Regions from separate parts of the Homo sapiens genome. Here region 2 is linked to region 1. The links come from fine-mapping of genetic effects on gene expression. A gene starts in region 1. The other region holds a variant in brackets. All regions are shown on one strand. Distances are between the middles of the regions. Region 1 holds the start of PARP8 (poly(ADP-ribose) polymerase family member 8). Region 2 has its middle 31 kb from the start of PARP8.

What was found.
Region 2: its variant is fine-mapped to the expression of PARP8 in blood mononuclear cells (TOPMed, PIP above 0.99). The same link has a PIP of 0.9 or more in monocytes and whole blood.

The regions. Positions count from the first base shown.
Region 1 is chr5:50,661,000-50,671,074 of GRCh38, forward strand. PARP8 (poly(ADP-ribose) polymerase family member 8) reads left to right here and starts at 5,638. Exons shown (of 26, transcript NM_024615.4): 1 at 5,638-6,187; 2 at 7,072-7,126. The coding sequence starts at 6,097. RefSeq lists silencers at 5,481-5,630, 5,681-5,740, 6,433-6,762 and enhancers at 5,913-6,825, 6,261-7,460.
Region 2 is chr5:50,630,870-50,640,944 of GRCh38, forward strand. It overlaps the pseudogene LOC202319. Among named protein-coding and RNA genes, the nearest start is that of PARP8, 31 kb to the right of the region's middle. The variant G/T (reference allele first, on the strand shown) is at 4,371.

The DNA.
Region 1 (10,075 bases):
GTATCTATAACAGAAAATGAATTGCTATCTAGAATATATAAAAACTTCCTACAAATAAATAATACAAACAAAAAAATTCAATTAAAAAATAGAGGAAATGACAGGCAATCATACAGAGACTATACAAACTGTCAATAAACACTTGAAAAAATGCTCAATATCATTAATAATCAGGGAATTACAGACAAAAACAAGATGAATACTTTACACCTAGCTGGTTGAAAAAAAATTAAAGACGAATGGTATATACTGTTGGGAATGTTGCAGGGAATTAGGTATTCTCAAAAACAGTGGAGTATAAAATGATAAAGTAAATTTGAGAGCAATTTGCTTGTATCTATCAAATTTTTAAATTTGCCAGTTCCCTGTGAGCCAGCCAGTTCCCTGTGAGCCAGTCAATTCACTTCCCAAAGAAACTGCTGAAACTGTGCATAAAGTTGTGCATTTGTTGTAAATTGTTTTAATCACAAAACATTTTGCAAAAGCCAACATGATTGCAGAAGTACGGTTAACACTTATTATACTGCATTCATTCAATATCATTCTCTGCAGTGGCTAAACAGAATGAGCTAGATCTCTTTCCATGACAAAGAAAAAAAGCTCTTCAAGACAAGTAGAAAAATTAAGTTGTGGCCAGGCGCGGTGGCTCATGCCTGTAATCCCAGCACTTTGGGAGGCCGAGCGGGATGGATCATGAGGTCAGGAGATGGAGATCATCCTGGCAAACATGGTGAAACCCCGTCTCTACTAAAATGCAAAAAACTAGCCAGGTGTGGTGGTGCACGCCTGTAGTACCAGCTACTTGGGAGGCTGAGGCAAGGGAATTGCTTGAACCCGAGAGGTGGAGGTTGCAGTGAGCTGAGATCATGCCACTGCACTCCAGCCTGGCAACACAGCAAAACTCCATCTCAAAAAAAAAAAAAAATCAAGTTGTAAAACAATATATATTATGTAGTTCCATTAAATTATTATTATTATTTTTTGAGACAGAGTCACTGTGTCACCCAGGCTGGAGTGCAGTGGCCTGACCTTGGCTCACTGCAACCTTTGCTTCCTGGGTTCAAGCAATTCTTAGGTCCCAGCCTCCTGAGTAGCTGGGACTACAGGTATATGCCACCACACCTGGCTAATTTTTGTATTTTTAGTAGAAACGAGGTTTCGCCACGTTACCCAGGCTGGTCTCGCACTCCTCACCTCAAGCAATCCACCCACCTTGGCCTCCCAAAGTGCTGGGATTATAGGCATGAGCTACTGTGCCCAACCTAAATTAAAATTTATATGTATAAATCTGTCAACATATGTACATCTGTGTGAAGATATGAGAATGCAGTAATGCAAGACATTCCCACAAAGTTATTAACACTAGTTACCTCTGGGACGAAGAGTGAAATTAGGGGTCAGGATAGGTAAGAATTTTCACATTTTACTTTATGTACTAATATATGTCTTAAATCATTTGCGCTGAGAATATATTCATATAGTATTTATGTACTTTCTAAGAAAAAGAAAAAGAGGTATTCAAAAGAAGGAATTAATATGAATGAATACAAGCTAAGAATGAGTTTGTTTGCATGGCACAGTGAGGCATCTCATCTAATTATGGTCTAGAATGCTTCTAGGTAGAAAGGGGAATTAAAATTTTACAGGAAAAATGGATCTAAATTAAAGTGAAATTTGGAACTAGAAAGAAGAGTTAAGGTTTCATCCTGTAGCTTTAGTATTACCTAGGTTAGTTAAGATGCTAGAAAGGGCCATAAAACCTCAACACCACCCCTGTGCCGTCACATTTGACCTTAGTAACCTAACGGGGGGTATGGTAAGAACCAAAATGTGACAAATCCACAAAACATCACCTAAAGTTCTCCTTCAGCTTGTCAAGTTTATTCAAAGTTGACTTTGGTTTTTTACAGTAGACCTATCAGAAGAGGTCAGAAAAGTAGGATTAGTTTCCAAAGGCAGCTTTTTCTTTTCTTTTTTAAGAAACAGGGTCTCCCTCTGTCATCTCAACTAGAGTGCAGTGGTATAGTTACAGTACACTGCAGCCTCAAACTCCTGTGCTCAAGAGATCCTCCCAAGTAGCTAGCACTACAGGTATTCACCCACATGCCCAGCTAATTTTTATTTTATTTTTTGTAGAGACAGGGGTCTTGCAATATTGCCAAGGCTGGTTTTGAACTCCTGACCTCAAGCAACCCTCCCACCTCAACCTCCCAAAGTGCTGGGATTACAGGCATGAGCCACCACACCAGCCAAGCAGCTTTATAAGGAAAGAATTGCACACGTCCCTCTACTTAGAAGAAGGTAGTTGGGCCCTTAGCAGGCATTTTGAATTTTACGGATTTCTTTCCATTACAGAACCACCGCAAGCAGAAGCTATATCAATCTCATAATTAGAAAGAACTTTTCAGATCATCTTCCTTCCAGTGGCTCTCCATTTTTCTCAGATGAAATCCCACTTCCTCACCTTTGTTTAAAGGCCCTTTGTGGTGTCTTCTCACAGCAATGCCTCGGCCCCTACCTTGTCCCTCCTTCACTGATTCTGCCACAAAAGCAAACTGTCCCAGTGCTGTTTCCACATCCCAGCAAGGATGGTAGGCATTCCCATGGGCATTTACCACTGATGACACTATCATGCATATGGCAAAGAAGGCTGTTCCCCTCTTTGCTAATCCTGCCTCCTATCCTCTTCTTAATAACCATGGAATAGCAGAGGTCAGGCTTGTACTTTTCTTAAGACTGTACTAATGGCTGGGTCATTTGGGAAAGGAAGTTGAATGCAAGAAAGGGAAATATAACTGCCACTAGCAGAGGCTATTTTGAGAGTCCACAGGCTTCAGCCCTCCTCAAAATCCATCATAGGGCTTCTTGTCGGCTTCACTCCTGGCCTGCAGCCATTGGCGGGGCGGTTTACTTCCTCGTGTGGCTTCTGTACATATTTATTCCTTTAAGTTCAATTCAATTGCTGAAAGGTTTCAAGAGAGAAAAAAACTTCTTGTAGTCCATGTCTCACCTTAGATGAATTAACCCCTTTGAGCCTGTTTCCTCTTTTGTAAAATGAGAAAAATAACAGCTAGTATATACGGGTTATTGTGAATATTAAATGAGTAACTATATGTAAAGCTTTTAGAACAGTTTCTACCAGTTCTGGATAAATGTTAATGAATTCTGGATAAGTTCTGGATAAATATTAAGTTCTGGATAAATGTTAGTTATTAATACCCACATCACATTATTGAACTTAATGCCGCATGTCCATTACCTTATACTTCCGCAGTTGGGCCTTTTGGCACAGGCAAAAAATTTATATTTTTCACTAATAAATTATATCTGGTGGCTTTGAATCATTATTCTAAACCGGTGGAATTTTTTCAGTAGAGTCTATCATCCAACATGTAGATTATTATCTTCAATTTAGTTTGGGATACCACCTGAGTTCTCCCTCACTGTAAATATTGATTTTATTTATTTAACAAATTGGTGAAGGGCCTCTTATGTGCCACGTTCCTGAATGCATGTGTGTGTATGTTGTATACTCATGAGTGTTTAAGGAGAGATAGAACTGTTTCATCTCAAAGGCGCATATAGTTTTTGATAAGGGAAGTATGTTGAGCACACATAATATAAACATTTAAATATTCGGAGATGGGGCAAGGTAAAGAAAGGATCCTGGATATGGGCTGACTTACTTTGAGCAAAGTGCTCCATAAGGATCTAGCCTGGAAGATCCTTGGAAGGATCTACGTTGGTATAGTTTTTAATTAGAGAAATTTATCTTGCAGAAATACATACTAGATAGGTTTTTATTTTTTAATCTTACTCCTTCAAATGTACAAATATTTATTAAATACATCACACCTTAAGGGCATGAACAGGGTGAGGTTAGCTTTGTTTAACCAAAACAGGGCAGCCCATGAAGCTTAAAAAAAAATCAAATATAGGACAAGTCACAAGAAGGCCTATTTTAAGGAGTGAGTAGTAAACTAAGAGCTCATCCAGACAAAAAAATATTTGGTAGCTTTAAAACTATTTCACATTTATTTGTAGTAAGGGTTCTACTTGGAAGATGCAAGCCTTGTGGCTAGATAACTATAAAATAAATTCTTGTGAGTTAATAGACTTTCAGCCTTTCAGAGAAATTAAAGCACATAATGGAAGAAGAAATACTCATGATTCTCAGTGGTGATGTGGAAGAGAAGAGAGCATTTTTGGCAGCCAAAGGGCCTACACAAAGCAACATATCCAGGAAGGACAAAGGGCTTGAACCTGTCCTACCCTAAACAGGAAGCATTTCAGGAGAGGACTGAGCAGGAGATATAGACTGTTGTGACTGTGGCTTTACTACATCAAAGGCTGCAGTGGATCTCAATAATGCAGAATGTTTCCTTTTGTAACTCATAGTGAATATGACTGGACAAGGAAATTATTTTGTAATTTGTTTCCTGAAAGATAAAGGAGTTAGAACATAGGATCTTTCATTGATTCTACAGAATCTTAAGACTCCTTCAGGGATGGCAGTCATTCCTACCGTGCTGAACATCATGTTGTCACGGTCAGAATCAGAACTAAATTGATTAAGGGTCTGAAACAGTTTGGCAACTCTTGGGCACTTATGCTGATAAGAAAAGTGATGAGACAGGGTAATGAAAAGAGGCTGCAAGAAATGACCATTCGTGCATTCAGCCAACATTTAGGCCACCCTCCTGTATTCCAGGCACTGTACATGGCACTGAGTATGCAAAGCAAAAGGAGTCATGGTCTACTGGCGGGAGCCTTCTCAGTGGAGAAAAGATCAACAAGAAAAGTGCCTGCTGGAGACCTCTCCTAGGGCATAAACCAATATAGAGGTGGGGCAGCTACGTCAGCCTGGGGTGTCCTTAGGCAGAACAGAAAGTGAGAATCAGAGCAGTATCTCATTTCTGAACACCTGGATTGTAGCTTTCCCTTGACTGTCAAAGGAGGTGGTTTTAAAAATCAAGCCAAACAGGTTTCCATCTTTTAGGAAGACCCTGGAACGTGCCAGTTGATTCTGACCATTTCTCATGAACAGAAACACCTAGGAAGGGAGAACTGGTGAGTTTCAAGAGGAGGAAGTCCCTCAAAAGGGGCTGTGTTTCGTAAACGGCGCCCCAAAAGGGCTGAACTACTTCGATCTGGAGGAAAAAGACTCAGGCACTGAGGGAAGGGGAGGGTGCACGTCTGGAGTAATTTTAAGGCCTTTTCCGTGTTATGTGATGTGGCAATAAGGAAAGATTTGTTCGTTTTATTATTTTTTTAATTTTTAAAGATTTTCTTTTCCCCCCTTTTCCCCCTCCCAGCCACTCCGGTTTGGGTTTGCCACAAGACTATAATTCCTTTAGAAAGTGGAGTCGAATTCATAAAAGTGATGGGGGGAGGGGCGCGGAGAGGGAAGGCTGGGAGCCCCAGGGAGTCTTCACGACCGCTCAGCTCCCGGCGCGAGTGGAGGTCGGTGTGGGGAGAAGCGGCTCCCGCCCGGGATGGCTAATACTCTGCGAGCCCCGGCAGCCCGCGGCCGGCGGGGTGACTAGGCGGCGGGCGCGGAGGGTCTGCGGCGGGCGGGCGGCGCTGCAGCAGCCTGGGCACGGCTGCCGCCGCCCGCGGGCGCGAGTGTGCGCGGGTGTGGAAGGCCGGCGTGCGAGCCGTGAGGGGTGTGCGCGCGTGAGCCGGAGCGGGGCTCGCCCCTCGCCGGCGCCCGCCGCCCAGCCGGTGATTGCTCTCTGGCTGTCCCCGGCACCTCGGCCCCCACGGCCGTTGGTCCGGGCGGGTGAGGGAGAAAGTGAGACTTGGTGTCATCACCATCCATTGTCAGAAGGGGAGGAAATTGGAATCCAGCAGCGGCGAGCAGCAGCTGGGCGGTCACATCTGGGAATGCAAAGCCGACCTCCCCCTCCTCCTCCTCCTCCCCCTCCTCCTCCTCCTCTTCTCTCACCCAGGATCACTTCCGAAACCACTTCGCCTTCAGCCCCTGCCTCGGCCAGAGGTTTCATTTTTAACTGAATATTTACGAAAGCTGGAAGCGTGCGAGGGGGGTGGGGTGGGGTGGAAATAGCGGCTGCTTCTTTTCCAGGGATTTATTTAATGGGGATGTGTTCAAGGCAAGAGCGAATTCAGAAGGATATCGACGTCGTGATCCAGAAGTCCAGAGCTGAGAAGGACTGCCTGTTTGCAGGTGAGTTCTTGCTTTTCCAGAACCTCGGACCCAGCGCCCCCTTCCCAGTTTTCTGACCGCGACGTCTGTGGCTGGGGGTGGGGTGGAGGGTTGCACGTCCCCATTCTGGGGTTCATTTGGCAACAGCTGCTGCAACGAGCGCGGGAGCCAAAAGGGGGAGGGGGCGCCAGCCTCTCCCCTTCCCCTCCCCCACCGCCAAGTCTGAGGCAGCCACCAGCTTTGAGGGCAGAGCCCGCGTGGCCGGAGCGGGGGTCTAGGCGAAGGGGCAGTGCGTGGTATTTCCAGCCCCGCGTAGTGCCCGAAGCCTCCAAGCACGCTTCCTGGGTTCCAGCAGCGGCGGCAGAGCGGGGTTGGTTTGCGCAATGGGCTGAGCGGCGGCGGCCGGGAATGGAGCCTGCTGCGCTGCGCTGCGCTTGTAAGCTGCGCCCGGCGCCGAGGACCCCCGGGGGGCAGCGCTCGGCCCATCTCCGGCCCCTTCGGCTCCCTCTAGTCCCCTCCGACTGGCAAAGAGAAGGGATTCCTCGGATTCCCAAGGCACCCAGCGCCCCTGCCTGGGGGTCGCCTTTCGTCCATTTTGCTCCCCCGGGATTTTGCTTTCGCTACCGCGAGCCCGGCTGAGGCTGCTTCCGGCCTCCCCTATCGGGAAATTCCCGCTGTTGCCATGGCACCCGGCACTTGTTGCGGGGGGCGGCCTCCCGCTGCACCCAGTCGGGGGCGCGCCGCATCCCCTCGGACGCGGCGCAGAGGGACCTCGCCGCCCTCTAGCCCTTGCCTTCTGCCCGGCCAGGCCTCCCCTGACACCACCGAATGTGGGGCTCAAGTCCTGATCGGGGTTAAAACAAATCCACTCCAGGGGTAGCTTTTGACGGGACTTTCTGTTTCAGATTTCAGATACTCTGACTCCACCTTTACTTTTACCTACGTTGGCGGCCCCAGAAGGTATTTATGTGTATAGAGTTGCTTCATTTCCTGTTCACACTCTTGTGTTTCCTTTGTTCTTAGCGTGTTCCGTGTTCGGGTATTTTGGTTGCTTGTTTGTTTGATTATTGTGGCTTTTCTTTACCTGCTACCCAAGCCTGACGTCCCTCGGTTTTAAATAGCAGGAGGAGGGGAATCAATGTTTGATTCAGGTGTTTCGAGGACCACGCCACAGGCAATGAGCAGAACTCTTCATGTTGAAACTGTTCTGCTACAGTACTAGATTGCTCTCAGGCGATTTGGGGTTGATACAGGCACGCCGGTGCAAAACTGGAATACTGGATATGAAGTGAAATGTATAAAAGACATAAAATGTCACAAAATAGTTTGATCAGAAGTGTTGATTTTCCTGGTGAGTTGGGGCTGCGTGTTTCCATGTTTTCTGAAGGTTTACATAAACATGCAGCCTGCCAATTCTCTGTACATTTTTTTTTCAATGAGTGGTATTTCGGTTTTCACGTATAGAAATTGGAGACTTATATGTAGCTGGAGTGGATGACTTCTTTCTTTTGGGGGAAGAATGAGAGATGCACATTTCGTTAGTAAATTGTGAACAACTTGAAACAAACCCAAATCCAATTTTGAATTTAGGAAGTAGAGTTAAAATGAAAGGTAGCCATTCAAATACTATGCCTTGCTACCTTCACTTGTTGAGTTAGGATTTTCTTCCTTTTAGCCCTTTAGGGACACAGTAGTTTAAAAGAGCAGTAGCCACATATGAGAAGTACCAGATTTAGCTTAGAGGGAATTCCTTAGACCAGCCCTGCTGTTAGGACTTGACATTCAATATTGTTTGATCACATTCCAAAATATATCTTAGCTAATGGAAACATTTATAAACATATAAATTGCAAAAGAAGCTTTCTTGTGTACATACATTTTTAAAAGCTTGAAATTGATGTGAACTTTTAAAAACACGTAGGATCTGTATTACATTATACATCTCAAAACATTTAAAGTGAATATCATTCCAGTATATGCAATATACCTAAGCCCCAGAATTAGCACATTGATTTACTAGTTGAAAATATAACAGTGAATCACCAAACTTAAGTGTATACTTTTTGGGAGAGAATGAAATTACAGTATTTCTTAATTTACTGTAATGTCATCTTTGTAATTATGAATTAATAATTCAATGAGAGGAGACTTGGTTGATTAAATTAACGCTGGTCCTACACATTATATCTAAAGGATCTTCGTATATGACTAATATCCTCTTGGATTATTTTAACAGTTAAAATATACAAAGTGGCCCATTAAAAACAGAGTTGACTTTTCACTATTGCTGTTTTTCTGGTGAGACATGTGGACAGGAAGGACAGGTGGGCTTTTCAAGTAACTAGCTTTCTGATTTTTAATAAGATACCTCAGTTCTTTTGGCCTCAGTTTACTTATCTGTACAATCAAAGGGTAAATCATATGCTTAATCACTAAGATCTGTTAGATACTGCAGTTAAGATTCTTTATCAGCAAATTATTGGACTCTAGTGTTAACATAGCTAGAGGTGGAAAAGGGAGCAAGGCCAGGTGTTGGGATGAATAATTAAGCGAGATAACATCAGTTTTCACCATAGGAAGAAGTACCATGGTTGCTCTTAAAGTAAGAGATGTTTCCTATTTTATGTAATTTTATTAAAGGATAGTGTTTTCTTTTGTCACTGATTTAAATGTACCTGGCTGTTTCTCAGCCATTTGGCTAAGATCGAGCACAAGTGTACCTGAGCCTTTTATATCTAATCTAATGTAGACCAGCCTGTTAAAAGAGAAAGACAATTGGTTAAACTGCTGATGTGTTGCTTTGTCTTCTCAAAAGCTTGTTCTAAAATACAATATGTAAAAAGTTGTTACAGTGTAGTAACCGTAGATAATCCCTTTATGATTTGTACCTAATGGCGAATACCTTTTATTTTCTGAAAATAACGTATTTGTTTTCATTACCGACATTATAAACCAATATTTATTAATCTATTTCTTATCCTGACATTTCAGTCAGACTCTTAAAATAATCTTGCTGTGTTTTGATTTAATGTGCTTATCAACTTGTAATATTGAATTAATAGTATCATTTTAGGTGAACTAGACTTTATTGAAGGAGGTGGGAGCCTTATGGAGAGAGAGTATATGATTATCTCTATTTGTATTTAACTACCATTTCATCTAACCATTAAGAACATATTTCAAGAATAATTTTAATTCAAGTTGTAGATAAAACTTACTATACCGTTTTCTTTTTGATGCTTTCCAAGAATGAGATACATGGTATTTTAAAGACAAAGATTGATCTTACATGTTACTATTAAAAAAAAATAATAATTTTGTTCTACATTTATACTTTTAATTTTTCTGTGGATAATAAGAAATGCCAAGAGGCGATTGTGTCCATGCTGGCAAGTGGCCTAATAAATTGTCCTTTTATTTGGTGGTCCTCAGAGTGGCAGTTAACATCTTGCTATTCTGCCTTGTGGACTTGAGGTGGAAAGGTTCATGGAATTATATCCTTGCTTTTGGATGTGCAAACTGAGGCTCAGAGAGTTTAAGACACATAGTCACTTTCATCAATTAAATGTTGAAGCTGCCATGTAAACCTGTTCCATCACACTCCTGAGACCTCCTTCTTCTCCATTAGTGTTTTCAAGCTTTTTGAGCATGCAGACACTTTACCATCAAAAAATTATGTAGAGACATAATTGAGAGTTACAGTTTAAAGAAAAACAAGGTGTAATTATTTGGTTATAAGTAGCATTTACATATGCTTGAAAACTTGTGCTATATATACGGTAAGATTAATTTATTCTAGCAATGATCTTGATAATCCCCCTGATTCCCAGACTCCTTGGAATAGCTCCACAGCTATCAGTGGTTCTGCCACAGGTTCAGAGCCTTCCCAGTACTGCCTTCTTATTTGAG
Region 2 (10,075 bases), 30 kb before region 1:
TATACCTATGTCTTCATGGGAATTTCTCTATGGCCAGTTGATTAGTGAGGGAAAAATTGAGCCTGATTTACAGAAGTCGCTGTACAACATCACAGCAACAGCCAAAAGTAGATTGCTTAGGCATTATAACCTACTTGAATGCAATTTTAAAAGAAATTCAGCCTATGTAATCAGTTGTCCACGATGTCTAGAAGGAGAGATATTACTGATTTATATGTGGCAGCTAAAAATTTGTCTAGGTAATTAGGGACTTGGGGCCAGGACTGGTGGCTCACACTTGTAATCCCAGAACTTTGGGAGGACAAGACAGGCGGATTGTCTGAGGTCAGGAGTTCGAAACCAGCCTGGCTAACATGGTGAAACTCCATCTTTACTAAAAATACAAAAATTAGCCAGGTGTGGTGGTGTGTGCCTGTAGTCCCAGCTACTCGAGAGGCTGAGGCGGGAGAATCTCTTGAATCCAGGAGGCAGAAGTTGCAGTGAGCCAAGATTGCACCACTGCACTCCAGCCTGGGCAACAAAGCGAAACTCCGTCTCAAAAAAAAAAAAAAAAAGATAATTAGGGACTTGGAAGGACAAAGATTGAAGGATTGGTGACAATGAGTTTTGGGGAAAAATACGTAGATGAACTACAGAAAATGAGCCAGAGTGTAAGAATATTTGTGCTTAATATGAATACTCACCAAACTATCATCAGGAAGGTTATCAAATAAATATGAAGGTATGAAACAACTTCTTTCACCAGGCACTACATTGCTTGCTCAGAAGGCTAATAAACAGCAACATTGGTGGTAGCAGTAGAGAATACATATAGGTTTAGCAACATGTTGGACTTTACCACTGTCCCTTACCAAAGCCTATTTAGCTGTCAAGACTATTAGGTGTCCAACACACAAGCAACAAGGACCAAGGCTAAGCACAAAATAACATATCCTGGGTGAAAAAAACAGTCACCTTTTGTCAGACTTGTTGATTTTACTGGAGCTCCTCTATGATAAAGGCAACAAGGAATGTTGTAAATGGAATCTAGCTTTATATCCTTGAATTACATTTGCTTGACCTGACATCATGTTTCTCTGATCACCACTCTCCGTGGGTACATTGAATGCTTTATACATACTGCCATAATATCCTGTTCTACATCCTTCTATTCAAAGAACTTGTTGTATAACAAATGAGTAGATATTCACTGCACTCACCTGGTCCACCATTTATCCTATCACTAACCAAAATTATTATTATTATAGAATGGCGAATATTTTATTAAAGACTCAATCACAGTGCCAGCTGGAGACAATGGCTTATAAGGTTGTACTCATGCCAGAGGATGTGGTGGTGTATCCTCTGAACTAGTAACTAAGTATAAGCTTGTCTGGTGTCTCCCATATAAAAAATACAACAATCTTTGATCTTTGTTATGAATGTTGAAGTGACTCCTTTTGTCATTACATCTAATGATCCACTCCAAATATTTGTCTCTTGTCTCTGAGATTCTAGGTTTTTGCAGAATTAGTACCCAAGGGGAGAGTCTCAACAGTATTTCATTTTACGATCCATCCTTTGTTAGAGGATGAAAGACTTCTAACTGGCCTTTTAGGTTGCCTGAGACCTTTAGACAAACAGTCAAAAATTTAAAATTTAAAATGTGGCACACTGTTGCATGGGGTAGTAAATCTTGACCTTAAAACTGGTATTTGTAAGAAAAACAGAAAGAATTCAGGGATCCCCTTTGATGGCTCTTAATTCTATACAGTCCTATAAATATTCATGAAGACTAGCCAGGCGTGGTGGTGCACACCTGTAATTCCAGCTACTCCAGAGGCTGAGGAAGAGAATGACTTGAACCTGGGAGGCGGAGGTTGCAGTGAGCTGAGATCATGCCACTTCACTCCAGCCTGGGTGACAGAGCAAGACTCTGTCTCAAAAAAAAAAAAAAAAAAAAGAAAAAATTAATGAAGACTAATTGCCAAAACTTGGAAGCAACCAAGATGTCCTTCAATAGGTGATTACATAAGCAAACTGTGGTATATTCATACAGTGGAATATTATTCAGTGCTAAAAGGAAAAAACTATCAAGCCACAAAAAGATACAGAAAAAACAAATATATTTTGCTAAGTGAAAGAAGCCAGTCTGAAAAGGGTACATACTGTGATTTCAACTATATGACATTCTGCAAAAGGCCAAACTATAAAGACAGTAAAAAGATCAGTGGTTATCTTTGCAGATGCCACCGTCGCTGGGAGCCCTGTACTATCAGCCATGGTCAAACCCATCGTGTTTTTTGACATCGCCGTCGACGCCAAGCCCTCGGGCCGCATCTCCATCAAACTGTTTGCAGACAAGATTCCAAAGACAGCAGAAAAGTTTCATGCTCTGAGCACTGGAGAGAAAGGATTTTGTTATAAGGGTTCCTGCTTTCACAGAATTATTCCAAGGTTTATGTGTCGGGGTGGTGACTTCACACACCATAATGGCACTGGTGGAGAAATTTCATGATGAGAACCTCATCCGAAAGCATACAGGTTCTGGCATCTTGTCCATGGCAAATGCTGGACCCAACACAAATGGTTCCCAGTTTTTCATCTGCACTGCCAAGACTGAGTGTTTGGATGGCAAGCATGTGGCCTTTGGCAAGGTGAAAGAACACATGAATATTGTGGAAGCCATGGAGCACTTTGGGTACAGGAATGGCAAGACCAGCAAGAAGATCACTATTGCTGACTGTGGACAATTCTAATGAGTTTGACTTGTGTTTTATTTTAACCACCAGACCCATTCCTTATGTAGCTCAGGAGAGCACCCCTCCACCACATTTGCTTGCAATATCCTAGAATCTTTGTGCTCTTGCTGCAGTTCCCTTTGGGTTCCATGTTTCCCTTGTTCCCTTCCGTACTAGCTGGATTGCAGAGTTGAGTTAAGTTTATGATTATGAAATAAAAACCAAGTAACAACAACAAAAAAAAAAAGATCAGTGGTTGCCAGGGGTTTGGGGATGGGTAGGGAGATAAATAGTTCTGAAACAGGCGATTTTTAGGGGATTGAACATAGTTTGGTAATAATGTAATGATGGGTACATGACATTATGCATTTTGCAAAACTCATAGGCCTGTACCACACAAAGAGTGAACCCTAATGTAAACTGGGGGTGGGATGAAGGTGAGAGTATGTGAGAACTCTGTACTTTCTGCTCGATCTTTCCGTAAAGCTAAAACAGCTCAAAAAATAAAGTCTATTATTTTTTTAAATGAAAGAAATTAACAATGACCATAGCACGCTCACACAAATAGATTATCGAGGACATTTCTCTGTCAGGAATGAATATTGGGTCATCTCACAAGGTAAAACCCTGACTAGCAGAGGTGTTAGCTGAGGGCACATGGCTGTAGATGCCAACAGTGACCTGATGGCCACTTGCAGAAGGGAGAGCCTTGACATCCAAACACATTGTTTCTCTTGTATTGTCCTGTGCATACTTATGTATCTTAACAAGTTTCCTTCTTTCCTCTTCATTTATCCCTCTTTTTAAAACAGGGCTTATTGAGGGTGATTAACTTAATTTTTAAATGATATGTGGCAGAATGTCAAGAGAGTATAGTGGAGAACTTCGTAAGGAATGGACATAACCCAGAATTCTTAGACTCAGAGTACATGCTGTGATTGAGAATTTTTTATTGTTTCATTGTTCAAGAGATTGTAGGTACATGTTCAATTATTAGAGAAATAGTTGCACTCTGTTAGAAGGTAGCTTGGGTCTTTTGTGTTTACTTTCAAAAGGGAAAGTTTATATTGATATTGAACAAGTTAAAGCATGCATATTTATTATTTGATGTTTGTTTCTGTGTTTGAGGAATTCCTCAGCCTATCAGTTTTGACGAAAACAAGAAACCACCTCCTGCTTTAGAAGCTAAAATGCCAAATGCTTGCTTTCTCAGCCTCCTTTGCAGCTAGGCTACAAGCATATGATTTAGGTTTTGCCAATCTGTTTGCCAGTGCTGAATTTCGACTTTGGAATTAATAAAAAAAGAAGCAGATTCAGTTATGCTTTCTCTTGTTTCTGGTGGAGGCCATGTAGCAGCTGCTACAATATCTGTTGCATAGGGAACAAGTGGGAGTGGTGCTGGTGGCTTTGCAGTTAGCCTAGGATTGAGCAATTGCTGCAACTGTTGCTCTCTGCAGCTTCAGCGTTACTTCTTACTGGTGGTGACAGTGGTTTCCTCCCTGGATGAGTTCTACAGCATGGTTTGGGGTACATTTCCTGGCTGCCTAGCTTTGATCTGGCTTTCTAGCCTTCTCAACAGTTCTACAAGTTCCCCACTATTTCTGTGGTAAACCTATTTATTGTTAATGTCAGCCATAATTGGCTTCTGTG[G/T]TTTATATTTTTTAAAATTCCAAGATATACAAATGTAACAGATAGCTCAACAAACATATGTCTTTTTAAATTAAGATATATTCTGTGTCACATGAAGTACAATGGACAAAATTCAACAAATTGAATTGCGCTAAAGACCAAAGATATATTAAGCCTGGCTAGTCTTAAAAATGTAACTGGATACAGCCAGGCATGGTGGCTCATGCCTATAATCCCAGCACTTTGGGATCCTGAGGCGGGCAGATCACCTGAAGTCAGGAGTTTGAGACCAGCCTGGCCAGCATGGTGAAACCCCATCTCTACTAAAAATACAAAAATTAGCTGGGCGTGGTGGTATGCCCCTGTAATCCCAGCTACTCAGGAGGCTGAGGCAGGAGAATAACTTGAACCTGGGAGGCAGAGGTTGCAGTGAGCCGAGATCATGCCAATGCACTCCAGCCTTGGCAACAGAGGGAGAATTTGTTTCAAAATAAAAAAATAAAAATGTAACTGGATAGACCTCAGGTTCTTGAATAAGCAGAAAATAATTTAGGTAAAAACCAAATAATAAACCAACATTCTAAGAGGTTTAGTATTTGGAGGCCCAAATGTCTTAGCTAAAAGTGTTCATTCTAAACTCACAGGAAAAGTGAAATATGAAAATATATAGAAAAATCTTAGGCAGTATTTTTCAATTTTAAGCAACAACTATTTACAGGTTTTTCAATAGGCATTACATTAAAAATGAAATATATAGTTAATAAATATGAAAACTGTGGATATAATCAACACATTTATTTTACTTCTTGAAGTGTTAACATGTGCTGTCTCAAATATCAACAGTGTACACGTGGGAAAAAACATTTTACATAGATTTTCTGCTACAGAAAACAGCCTCTCATTAGATATCCCAAGTTTTTTCATTTGGAACACACGCCCATTCCCCAGTATACTAGGGGTAATAATAATTTATAAAGTTTAATTACTTTTTACTACTAGAAAACTAATTTTATGTTTGGCACAAATTTCTGAAATGACATTCCACTGCAAAGAATAATACCTATATATGGCCAGAATTACTTTTTTTCTGTAACATTAAGATAATACTGGTCAGCCTGAGCAACAAAGTGAGACCTCATCTCTACAAAAAATAAATAAATTAGATGGGTGTGGTGGTGATGAGGGTCTGTAGTCCCAGATACTCAAGAGGCTGAGGTGGGAGGATCCCTTGAGCCTAGGAGGTCGCAGTTGCAGTGAACTATGATCACACCACTGCCCTCCAGCCTGGGTAACAGAGCAAGATCCTGTCTCCAAAAAAAAAAAAAAAAAAAAAAAAGATAATATTGGTATAATTCAGGGTTTTTGCCTCAATCCCCATGCTTCTTCATTTGACCCTCCCTGACTCCCTGATGAATTTTAGTTTGAAGTTTTGCTCTAGTCCAGAAGTTAATTTAAAACATCTTAATAAAATTTCCACCTGCCTAGATATTTCTTGTTTGTTACACTTTAGTCCATGATTTCTACTGCCATTTACATTACCCCAAAAATATGACCTGCTGAATTTCTGCTGTCATGAATTGACTAACATATTTTGGGCCTAAAACCTTTACATTTAGAATCTTTTTGTTTGGTATTTGAAAATAATGTATGTCCTCCATTTATTGGTCAAAAGCAGTGCCTATTTATTTCTACGTTTAATCAGAGAGACTTTGTAATAGTTATTTAATATTATTTATGTTCATTCATTTGTTGTATATAATGAGGTTAATTGCTATGATATTTTTATGTCGTTAATATAATAAAAAATATGTCATCTTTTCTCTTCCAATGAGTCTTTGGGTTATTAATTTTTAACTCAGGTATCAAGCTTGTAAAATGTTTAATGGCTTATAATAATGTCTAACACATAGTATCCACTGAGTTCTGGTAACTCCAGTTTATCAAATTCTCTTTTTTTATACCATTCTCCAAATGCAATGCTATTTGGTTTTATTTTTATTTTTTAAAAATGTGCTGCCTGATTTGAGTCTCTAAAAGTGTGAAATGTTCAGTATTTTCCAAATGTATTTGAACATGGAGTGTTATATTTACTAAAAAGTTAACAAGCAAGTATTCCCCTAAACACTCTAGCAAATACTACTAGTACAGACAAATTACGATCTAACATTATAGTACATTTTAATTTATTAGGTTAATTTTGGTTGCAAACAATAAAAAGCAAAATTCAAACTGGCTTGTATAATAGATTTTGAACAATAGTATAGGCTCAAGATAGTTTAATGCAGAAGTTCAATAATGACACAAAATAAATGTTTCTTGTCTTCCCTGTTTCTTCACTCTACCTTAAGTGGTATAGATTGAATGTATCCCCCCAAAATTTGTATATTTAAATCTAATCCCTAGTGTGATGATGATATTTGGCAGTGGGTCTTCGGGGGGTGATTAGGTCATGAGGACAGAGCCCTCATGAATGGGATTATTGCTCTTATAAAAGAGACCTTAGAGAACTTCCTTGTCCCTTCCACCATGTGAGGACACAGCAAAAAGACAGCGGTCTATGAAACAGGAAACAAGTCCTCACTAGACCCTGAATCTGTTGACAACTAGATCTTGGACTTCCTGGCCTCTAGAACTGTAAGAAATAAATTTATGTTGTTCATAAACCATCCAGGCTGTGATATTCTGGTATAGCAATCTGAAAGGACTAAGACATTAGGTCTCAGTTTTATTCTATGGCTTAAAATATCATGTCATGAGTAGACAACTTCCAATCCTAGTACCTTGTGCTTCCTCTGCTGCATTTGGAAAGAAGGCATTTCCCCCTTCAATCGTGGAATGAAAAAGGTGTACTTCATTCTGATTTGATTAGCAGAAGGCATATGCTCTTTCATGCACCAATTACAATGACCAAGAATTGGGCATGGGACTCATGTCACTTAAACATTGTGAAGCTGAGAAATTCATTATTTGGTTAGGAGTGTGTGAGATCAGGGAACACTGAATGCTTGAGGTACCACCACGATGTCCACTGCAGGTATTTCCATTTCAGTAAACATTTCCATTAAGATAATGCTAGAACAAAATCAGAGGAGTAGATCTTGGTGTCCCCAACTTTTGTTGACCTAACAAAGTGAAGTTGCTTCAACTGGACACTTCTGAACCACATTTATGCCCATATGTTCAGTCCAAATTTATTATAAGCAATTTTCAGGTCCATATGTTTAGGATATTTCATTTGTTTGGTTATGCATTATATGTATACATGTTTTTAACATACACACACCTCTACATATATTTTGCAGGCCTTTACACAAAAGTGTTTTCCCTAAAGGGAGAAGAGAAAAGTTGAATGCAGAAGTAAAAAAAAAAAAATTCATTTGCATTTGTAGTATTTGTATCTAAATATTTTATATTACAGACGTATTAAGATTTTTATCATTTTAAACACTACTTTAAAACAGGGAGATGGTTTACCTTCAAAAAATTTAGCTCTCAACTCAAAGTTATCAAAGTATATCCTAGATGTAGTTTGCTTGTCAGGCTTCTACATGAAAATTTAAAAGGCTCCTGCATTTCAGAATGAGCCTAACATATGTAATTGCACTCATCCACTATGTCTACATTGCCAACCAAATACTGACAGAGAGAGCTATAGAGTGCCATAGAGAGCTGGCAGCTTTTCTGTTTGCATTAGCTTCTACTTTCTTCTTCATCTTTCCTCTATGTCTGACACATTTCATGTTACTGTTTTTAAATGTTCCCTTAACTACAGAGCTAATGTGCTTATATCTGTCAGGGGTCTCATGTGAACCTCTAAATATTTAAAGATTCATTAGCTCCCTGGAGGGCCACCATGATTTCCAAAACAAGTCACAATACCTAAAGATCTAATTGTACAATTTCCCTCAGAAATAGCCTTGAGGAAGAAGTCACATCACTCAGCAATGAGTATTACAATTATTCACAGCAGTTTTCATGGTACTATATAACATCCAATTTACAGAATTAAAGGTAATGTAATTTGAAAGAAAAATACCTGGTTTTAAGGAATGAATGGCCATGTCAACTATTGGAAGCATCTTTGAATTGGAGCCTCTATGTTCAGGTTTCACCAGGTTTATGTTTTTAATTAATATCCTATTCAGCTTTCTGTAATTTCCACTGAGGTTTTCTAGAACAAGACAAGTCAGAAATTGATCTTTAATTATAAGCTAAGAGCAAACTGCCAAAGAACTGAGACAAATTTTGAAGAAAGAGGTCTATCAGGACTAACTATTTTAAGAGAATAAAGACTAATCAGACACACACACATATGCACAAAAAGAGGGAGAGAGAGCACAAAAATCCTACGAAATACATTTTAAAAAATTAATTTTTTTAAGAAGAAGCATTTGATCTGCCAAAGGGAAAACTTAGCAGTTTGGAGATCTGACAGTGCTAATCTCAGGGCAAGAAAATAACAAAATAAGACACCAAAGAATTACCTAAACTGTGAAAGATGAAGTTTTCAGAGTTCTAACAGAGAATTGGGATACTAAAGTACAAAGTTTAAGAGGTGTAATATATTAATGTTTAATTTATATCCCAAATACTTAAAAACTATGTTTCATTGTTATACATATTTATTTTATTATAAAGATAATGAATGCAGTAGGGTTAGATTTAAATAACTCATTGGTTTTAAAATGAGAAACGAAGGTCTGGCTTTTTACTACCTACAGTCTTACCATCAAAGTTAGCTATTGTTAATAATTTCTTGTCCATTCTTGTATGTGTTATGGTTTCTTTCTTAGAAAGAAGTACACTATACTAGTATACATACTATTTATTCGTGAACTTTGCATTTGTCATGTAATCATATGTCTTAGTGGTCATTTCATAATAGATGTCTCTCTTTCCCATGCTGTCAGTGGTGACTGCATGAGGCATTGTACAGACGTACCAGTAATTACTTACTCTGTGTCATATTGATGGTTATTCAGATTGTTTTCACTTTGCCCTTGCAGACAACACTGCAATGAACATCCTTATTCATGTATTATCCCAAATACATCACAGTGATTGCTGTCTGAGAGAAATATACATTGTTGATTTTATTTTTTTACTTTTTATAATTTCAACTTTTGATTTTAGATACAGTGGGTACATGTGCAGGTTTGTTACATGGGTATGTTGTGTAATGCTGAGGTTTGCTGCATGATTGATCCGATCACCCAGGTACTAGGCATAGTAGTTGTTTTTCAACCTTTACCCCCTCCCTCCTTCTACCCTCGAGTAGTCCCCAGTTTCTATTGTTCCCATCTTTGTGTCCATGTGTACTCAATGTTTAGCTCCTGCTTATAAGTGAGAATATGTGGTATTTGGTTTTCTATTCCTGTGTTAATTCGCTTAGCATAATGGCGTTGAGTTGCATCCATGTTGCTGTAAAGGACATAATTTTATTCTTTTTTATGGCTGCAAAGTATTCCATGGCATATATGTAACACATTTTCTTTACCCAATCTACCATTGATGGACACCTAGGTTGATTCCATGTCTTAGCGATTGTGAATTACACTGCTGATTTTAATAGAAACCACTAATTTTTACGCCAAAAAAATCATCAATGTGCACCTGCTCCAAGGCTGTGTGAGCATAGCCCTTTTTCTTGGGATGTCAACAACACTGGGTTTTATCAAAATATAAGTTTTGCCAATTTATTAGTTAAAAAATGCTAACTCAATGCT